2 linked regions of the Homo sapiens genome follow. The protein of the gene in region 1 interacts with the protein of each later gene in a pairwise test. Each region holds a gene or a part of one and is shown in the gene's direction. Other genes may lie near its edges.

Region 1 (3,340 bases):
TTCAGAATAGAAACAATCCACCTGAAGCGTGTGAACTAAACATGGATATGCATGGATCCCTTAAGGAATTTTAGGATGATAAATTTGGGATGATGGAAGACAAGGGTCTAGAACGTTTTTCTGTTTTATGTCTAGACCGAGTGATAGTGAGGTGTATTTACTGAATAATACTTTGTGCCTAGAATATTGTAATCTTGTAATTTTTTTTTAATTCAGGAAATTCAGCAAAGCAGCATTTTGTATTAGAAGTAATTTGTATACTTGACATTTGAAAAAAATAGGGCTTAAGTGGAAACTGTGTCATTAATATTTAATTTTTGGAATTGATCCTGAGGTGATCAATTTATAAATAATATATAGAATTCTCATGTTTATGATACTTGATCAGAGATAATTTTTTGTTTTATAGTCCTGAGGGAAGTTACACTGATGATGCAAACCAGGAAGTCCGTGGGCCACCCCAGCAGCATGGTCACCACAATGAGTTTGATGATGAATTTGAGGATGATGATCCCTTGCCTGCTATTGGACACTGCAAAGCTATCTACCCTTTTGATGGTATGATTTTCTTAATAATATTGTATGTAAAAAAATTGGTTCTTTAAAAGTATTTACATCAAGTCACTCACTGTAGTATCCTTATTTAAGTAATATATGTTGTCAGAAAATTATTATCCCATTTCTTTAGTATGCATACTTTTGTTATAACTGTATTACAAATGTAGATATTTTTCTTCCGTACATGGAATTAAAAGGAAATTGCCCACGTTACTAGCATCCTAATACAGATTATTAATTAATTATCAATTTTGGTCAGTGCAGAATTTTCACCAGAGTCCTTACTGTGCACATGTCCTAAACAAAGTCGAGGCAGCTTGAACATGTAGCTCAACCCAGGAAGCGGGATGCTGGCGGATGCCACTTCATGCTCTTCCTTGTAGCTTACTAACATTAAGAGACAGGTACAAGGCATAGCTAGCTGAATGCCATCATCATATACTGAGTCCGTAGGCCACCTGTTTAGATGAAAGTGGGAGAGAATGTAGTAGCTACTGACTATGTTATCTCTTACTCTATGAAAGTTGAAGAACAAACTCTGGAAGGGAAGTAAGGCACTGAGGCCTTCTCCTGCAGATTTTTAGTTCCTCTTTATCCTGGACTGTGAAAAATACTTTCCCTCAACTAACAGGAGAACTGAGCGACACTTTCATAAATAAACGGTTGTAAAATGGTGCTTGATTTAAGGTCTTTCTCCCCACTTCGTGTTGGTTTAAAATTGAGCAAAGTCTCTAGTTACTTCTTATTAGAAAATATATTAAATTTAAGACCTTGCAGCCAAGTGCAGTGATGTGTGCCTATAGTCCCAGACACTTGGGAGGCTGCGGTGAGAGGATTGCTTGAGCCCAGGAGTTCGAATCCAACCTGGGCAGTAAGACCCTATCTCTAAAACAAAACAAAAGAAAACAAACTTGCTATAATGTAATCTAGAGAGTAGGGAAGCAATTTGGCACGTGTTAAATGAAGATTCAGTTGTGAAAATTGTTACTGCTAAGCAGGTTGGGCGTGGTTGGGGATAGAGAGTGAAAGAGTTGTGTATGGCCATTCTGTTTCTACCATCTCTAGAGTCAAACCCGTATTTTTCTCTGTTCTCCCTTCAGACTCTCTTTTTTCCTTCTTTCTTCCTGCTCTTTTGCTATCTGGTTACTGTTTTCCTAATCCATACCTGCTGAATTTTTTTAGATAGACTACTAAAATTTGGGAAAAGAGTTGGAATAGTGACATAGGAATTAGAATACCCTGTCAAATCATGTAATGTCACTGTGACTCAGTTAACTTCATCCGTTACATGGGGGTGATGTTATCCAGCCCTGCGGGCTTATTATGCAGCTCAAATGAGAGAATGTATATGAAAGTGCTGGGTAAGCCACAAAGCACAATAGAGATGTTGCTAGTGAGAGTCAGTAGTTCCAGGTACATTGAAATCTAGTAGGGTTTCATTGTATTTTGTGCATTGTATTAGTAACTTTAAAAAAAATTATCACAATGCTTAAATTATGCTTGTGAAAACTCTCATCTAGGACATAATGAAGGTACTCTAGCAATGAAAGAAGGTGAAGTTCTCTACATTATAGAGGAGGACAAAGGTGACGGATGGACAAGAGCTCGGAGACAGAACGGTGAAGAAGGCTACGTTCCCACGTCATACATAGATGTAACTCTAGAGAAAAACAGTAAAGGTGCAGTAACTTATATCTAAACTAACCAGGCACCTTTGTGCCATGTGTGACATAGGAAGAGTAACATAAAATGAAAACACATTCAACAGGTTGAAAAAAATAAGGAAACTTAAAGGGCATCCAAGATTAATTGTTCACTATGTGAGCTGAGTGTAGGCTTGATCTTGTGAATATTACCACAAGAAACATTTTGTGGCACTTTACTGTTTGAGTAACGTTGGTGTGAAGCTTAATTGATGCCTTTTGCTTTATGTCCCGCTTAAGTCTGTGTGAAGGATTTGTGTTTTTCTGCCTTACAAATAGAATTTGATTTATTGGGCAGGAATTCATGGATAGTAATGCTCTCTGCCCCCTTTACTTCAGAAAACACAGTGACTTTAGTGAATTTGAATAGTGAAACTGCTCTGAAATGCTATGGAAAGCCGACTCCCCAAAGAGTGGTTTCTTCTAGAAGTTTGAATTTGTAGCTACAGTTTCCAAGAAGAAAAATAGTAGTTGGATAATTTAGTAAAATAATAACATCATTTTCATTTTCTTACCTATTCTTAACTTTGGTTTCCTAAAGGAAGAAAATGAGCAGGTAGCACATAATCTATTTAAGTAGATTTAAAGAGAGTTTCAAAATAAATCTCCTGGTCTAGCTCTTAGGTGAATAAAATAGATTTTGTTTGAGACCTCAAAATATTTTGAGGTTAGCTGGTAATTTTCAATAATTTACAAGCTTCCTTCCAAACTAATCTCATACTTTTGTATGTTTCATCTTGAAAATATCTTTTGGGAAATACCACTTTAGTGATTATTTAGCATTTAGCAGTTACACATAGGAAAATACACAGTTACATAGAAAAATACACATTTGAAGATAGAGGAAACCTTGAATGGAGGGGAAGTGTTGACAAATTTTAATTTTTAAAGGAGAAACTTTTTGACTATCTGGGTTAGAGGAAGATATGTGTACCGCCTTTAGGGCATTTTGTTATTTCCGCTGAATCATTAGTTATTAGGATAGATAAATTTTTCCAATTAGTTTCAGCAAGCGTTGTTGGAAACACTGTGCAGTCAAGGATTGTGCAGTGCTGGTTGTGTGACCACACCCTGAGTCA
Region 2 (3,818 bases), on another chromosome or scaffold:
GCACTGTGCGTGGGGCCTGTAAGACTCCTCGTCCTCCTCCCATCCTTGTTAATGGGGCTCCCAGGCCATGCTGTAGCCCAGCCATCTGCCTCCTACCCAGCCTGGGGGCACTGGCCAGCAGGGTGTGATAGCCGACGAGAGGGCCTCAGCCGCACTCTCCACGTTCACCCCCAGAGAGCGGTGGCACGCTTGTGCTGGTGAGCCAGGATGGCATCCAGAGGCCGCCGCTGCATTTCCCACAGGGAGGACACCTGCTGTCCTTTCTGTCCTGTCTGGAGAATGGGCTGCTGCCTCGGGGACAGCTAGAGCCCCCGCTGTGGACCCAGCAAGGGAAGGTAACTCGGGTGGGAGGCTTTAGGGGAAGGGCTGTGTGTGGGGTTCTCTGCCCGCCTCCCTTCCTTCCCCACGTGGAGTTCTTAGGAGCGGCCTTGTGTGGAACCCTGGATGAGACTCTGCCCTATACAGCCCGACCACCTACCCCTCCTTCCACAGGGGAAAGTGTTCCCCAAGCTACGGAAACGAAGCAGCATTCGCTCCGTGGATATGGAGGAGATGGGCACGGGGCGGGCCACCGACTATGTGTTCCGGATCATCTACCCCGGCCACAGGCACGAGCACAGTGAGTGTCCCGAGCTTCATCCCGGGGGAGGAGAGGAAGACGCTCTGGGAGGCGGGGAGCGCAGCGTCACCCAGGAGGGCAGCAGGCAGGGCCCACTGACCAGGCCAGGTTAACACCAGAGGCTCATCGCCTAGCCTCTCAGCTGGACCTTTTACCCACAGATATTGCCTTTGAAAAGGTGCGTCTCTTCTACCCAGCTCCCTTCCCCACTTCTCCACGCCAGGACTCTTGGCTCAGCAGACCTAGGCGTCACTACACAAGACTCTTAGTTATCCTTTCAGACCCTGTCCAGGGGTAAAACACGTGGAGAAACGAGAAGTAGAAGGTGGGGAACCCTCCATTGCTCTTCACCTCCTGCTCCCCAACCCCTACAAGACAGCCTGGGTATGGGACCAGCGCTACTTTTTTTTTTTTTTTTTTTTTGAGACGACGTCTCGCTCTTTTACCCAGGCTGGAGTTTAATGGCGTGATCTCAGCTCACTGCAACCTCTGCCCCTGGGTTCAAGCGATCCTCCTACCTCAGCCTCCTGAGTAGCTGGGATTACAGGCGCACACCTCCATGCCCGGCTAATTTTTGTATTTTTAGTAGAGATGGGGTTTCACCATATTGGCCAGGCTGGTCTCAAACTCCTGACCTTGTGATCTGCCTGCCTCAGCCTCCCAAAGTGCTAGGGTTACAGGCGTGACCACTGCGCCCGGCCCAGCGCTTCTTTTTGGATGGTGAATATTGTCTGCTGACTCCCCTAGAGCCAGAGCCCTCCTCAAACCAACTACTGATGAGCGTTAGCTGAAGTAGCAGGTTGCATCAGAGGCAGACTCGGGGCTGCCTGGGGGCTTTGGGCACTGGCGGGTAGAAAGGCGGCTTGGCCCTTGTGGGTCCTGCCCCACCCTGGACACACACCCCTGGGCCCAAGGGGGTCTCTCTGTCTATGTGCATCTACCAACACCAAAGTTCCCTTTCTGGTCAGAGTGCTGCTGCTGCCCATAGGCTTCTCTGGGCAGACTTGCTTTTCTTACAGATAAGGTCGGGGAATTTGCCAGCCCAGAGCGTTTATTGCTAACAAGACCACCCGCTCCCTAAATTTCCAACTTGTGCCAAAAAGTTGTCAACAAGTTGTCTCTGTATTAGGGACCGGACTGCCCAGACGGCACACTCAGCCACAGCACAGATAGCTCCACCAGGCTCAGAGGGCACACGGCACAGGGATGTCCCCCCTTCCCAGATGTACCTGACAAAGAGACGCATCTTTGGCCAGAATGTATTTACACACTTGGCACTTAGTCTCAGGCTGTTGCTTGGTTTAGCTTCTCCAGTCTCTGCCTCCCCTCTTCGATCTTTGCCATTTCCCAGTCCTGGTCACTTCACTTCCAGGACCACCTCGCCAAGGGCAAGCCAGGGCACCCAGAGGCTGAAACTCCACCAAGCGACTCCAGCTCCTTGAGGACAGCTCTGGGAAAACCCTTTCCTTTTCCTGGGAGGGAAGAAGGTGGAATTTATAGTCTGAAAAAGGGGATTTGGAGTAATCTTCAGATTTGGTCCAGCCTGAGAGGAGCTAGAGAACGATCAGGACCCATCTGCCAGCTGTCATGCGCAGCCTCTGTGAGGGCCGATGACCTCCTGGGCTGCCAGCCCATCCCAGACAGTCCCGGTCTTTCACATCCTCCCACCTCTGTTCTCTCTCTTCTGTTCTTCCTAGAGAGGCTGCCTCCGAAGAGTGAGGTTCTGCAGCTGCCCCAGCCCCTCGCCTCCTTCCACACTCTCCCAGGAAAATCATCCAAAGAGCTTTCTGGTCCCCTCCCTTCCCCTCTTCTGTGCCCTGCAGATTCACGATGACCCCGGCCTCCATTCCACTCCCCTTAAGGAGGGAGTCCGTCCTGCCCAGGGATGAGGGCCTCATGCCTCTGCCTCTCGCTGTTCTCTTTGAGCAGTCACTATTAACTACCACCACCTAGCGGCCAGCCGCGCGGCCTCGGTGGACGATGATGAGGAAGAGGAGGATAAACTGCACGCGATGCTCTCAATGATCTGCTCGCGGAACCTCACAGCTCCCAATCCGATGAAAGGTTCTTATCCCTCCCTCTCCCTGACCCACCTCATCCCCACCCTCCCTCCCGGGCCCGCCTGCCACCCACCACAGGGGTTCGAACGGCAGTGTTGGCATTAGGGGACTTGCACCCAGGGCAGTTCCCTTCCATCGGGGGCAGATCAGGGAGGGCAGAAGGAGGCCAGACAGGTGCTGGCAAGAAAAGGGGCTGGCCCAGGGCAGGTGGCTCCAGGCTGTGAGGAGGAAGAGGATTTGCTAATAGGAAGGTCTGATTATCTGATTGCCTCCTGGGCACCCTGAATGGATCTCTGAGCCCATTCCTACTCCGGGGGTCAGGCTGGCAAATGCCAGACAGAGGTCTCTTCCTTTCTCTCTGCTGATTGGGAAGACCAGCCTCTGGGCCTGGTGCTTCTGACTCCTGACTTAACAGAAACAGGATGGAGGTACCGGGTCCTTCCTGGGGCAGGGGCAGCAGCTGTGGGTCAGGCGAGGGGTTGAGGGCTGCCATGCGAAGGGCCCCAGGGCTCAGTCTTCCCAGGAGGCCTGAGGGCCCCAGCCGGCAGGGCCTGGTACTTTGGCATGAAATCTAGAAATAGCTGCAGCATGGTGTCCAGGAAGGGGCCAGGCTCAGGGCCTGGCAACATGAACTCCCGCCCCAGATATGCCCCTGGTTCACTGTGTGGTTTTGAGCAAGTTTCTCACTATCCCGGAGCTCCGTCTCTTCACCTGCGCCAGGGATATAAGACAGATGTGTTCCTGCCCTCATGAGTCTCAGGGTCCACGAATGGAGAGGTCACCTTTGTTGGAGGTGATAGCGTAGTGCCCTCAGCCTCTCAGGGTTCCTCTGCCTACCACCCATCTTTCCTAGCACAGAGCTGGCTTGGTAGAGAGGGAGCCCCCCTCTTTTCAGCAAGCAATCAGCCAGGCGACCTGTGAGGGCTGGGATGGGTGCTCCAGAAAGGGGTGGGTAGGAAGAGGCTGAGGCCAGTTCTCCCAGAGACGAGGGGAGCTTCCCCATTCCCACCCATTCCCATGCTACAAAATCAATTGCTTCTCCCTTTCCCCGCCCCTGCAGAGGATGTCCTCAGAATATGTCACACTCCCCTTAGGCTTCCAAAGTTCTGCCGGGAAGCCCAGTTCCTTAGCCGGCCACT

Evidence for each region.
Region 2: the proteins of FNBP1L (region 1) and SGSM2 interact in a two-hybrid assay, tested with the Homo sapiens proteins (one large-scale study listed by BioGRID and IntAct).

The regions. Positions count from the first base shown.
Region 1 is NC_000001.11:93,548,869-93,552,208, forward strand, and holds part of FNBP1L (formin-binding protein 1-like), read left to right. Parts: intron 1-409; coding exon 410-558; intron 559-2,078; coding exon 2,079-2,237; coding exon of another isoform or gene 2,238-2,257; exon of another isoform or gene 2,258-3,340. UniProt on the Homo sapiens protein: Required to coordinate membrane tubulation with reorganization of the actin cytoskeleton during endocytosis. May bind to lipids such as phosphatidylinositol 4,5-bisphosphate and phosphatidylserine and promote membrane invagination and the formation of tubules.
Region 2 is NC_000017.11:2,364,723-2,368,540, forward strand, and holds part of SGSM2 (small G protein signaling modulator 2), read left to right. Parts: intron 1-174; coding exon 175-335; intron 336-492; coding exon 493-619; intron 620-780; coding exon of another isoform or gene 781-917; exon of another isoform or gene 918-944; intron 945-1,652; exon of another isoform or gene 1,653-2,091; intron 2,092-2,316; coding exon of another isoform or gene 2,317-2,338; exon of another isoform or gene 2,339-2,434; intron 2,435-2,442; coding exon of another isoform or gene 2,443-2,508; exon of another isoform or gene 2,509-2,542; intron 2,543-2,548; coding exon 2,549-2,683; intron 2,684-3,818.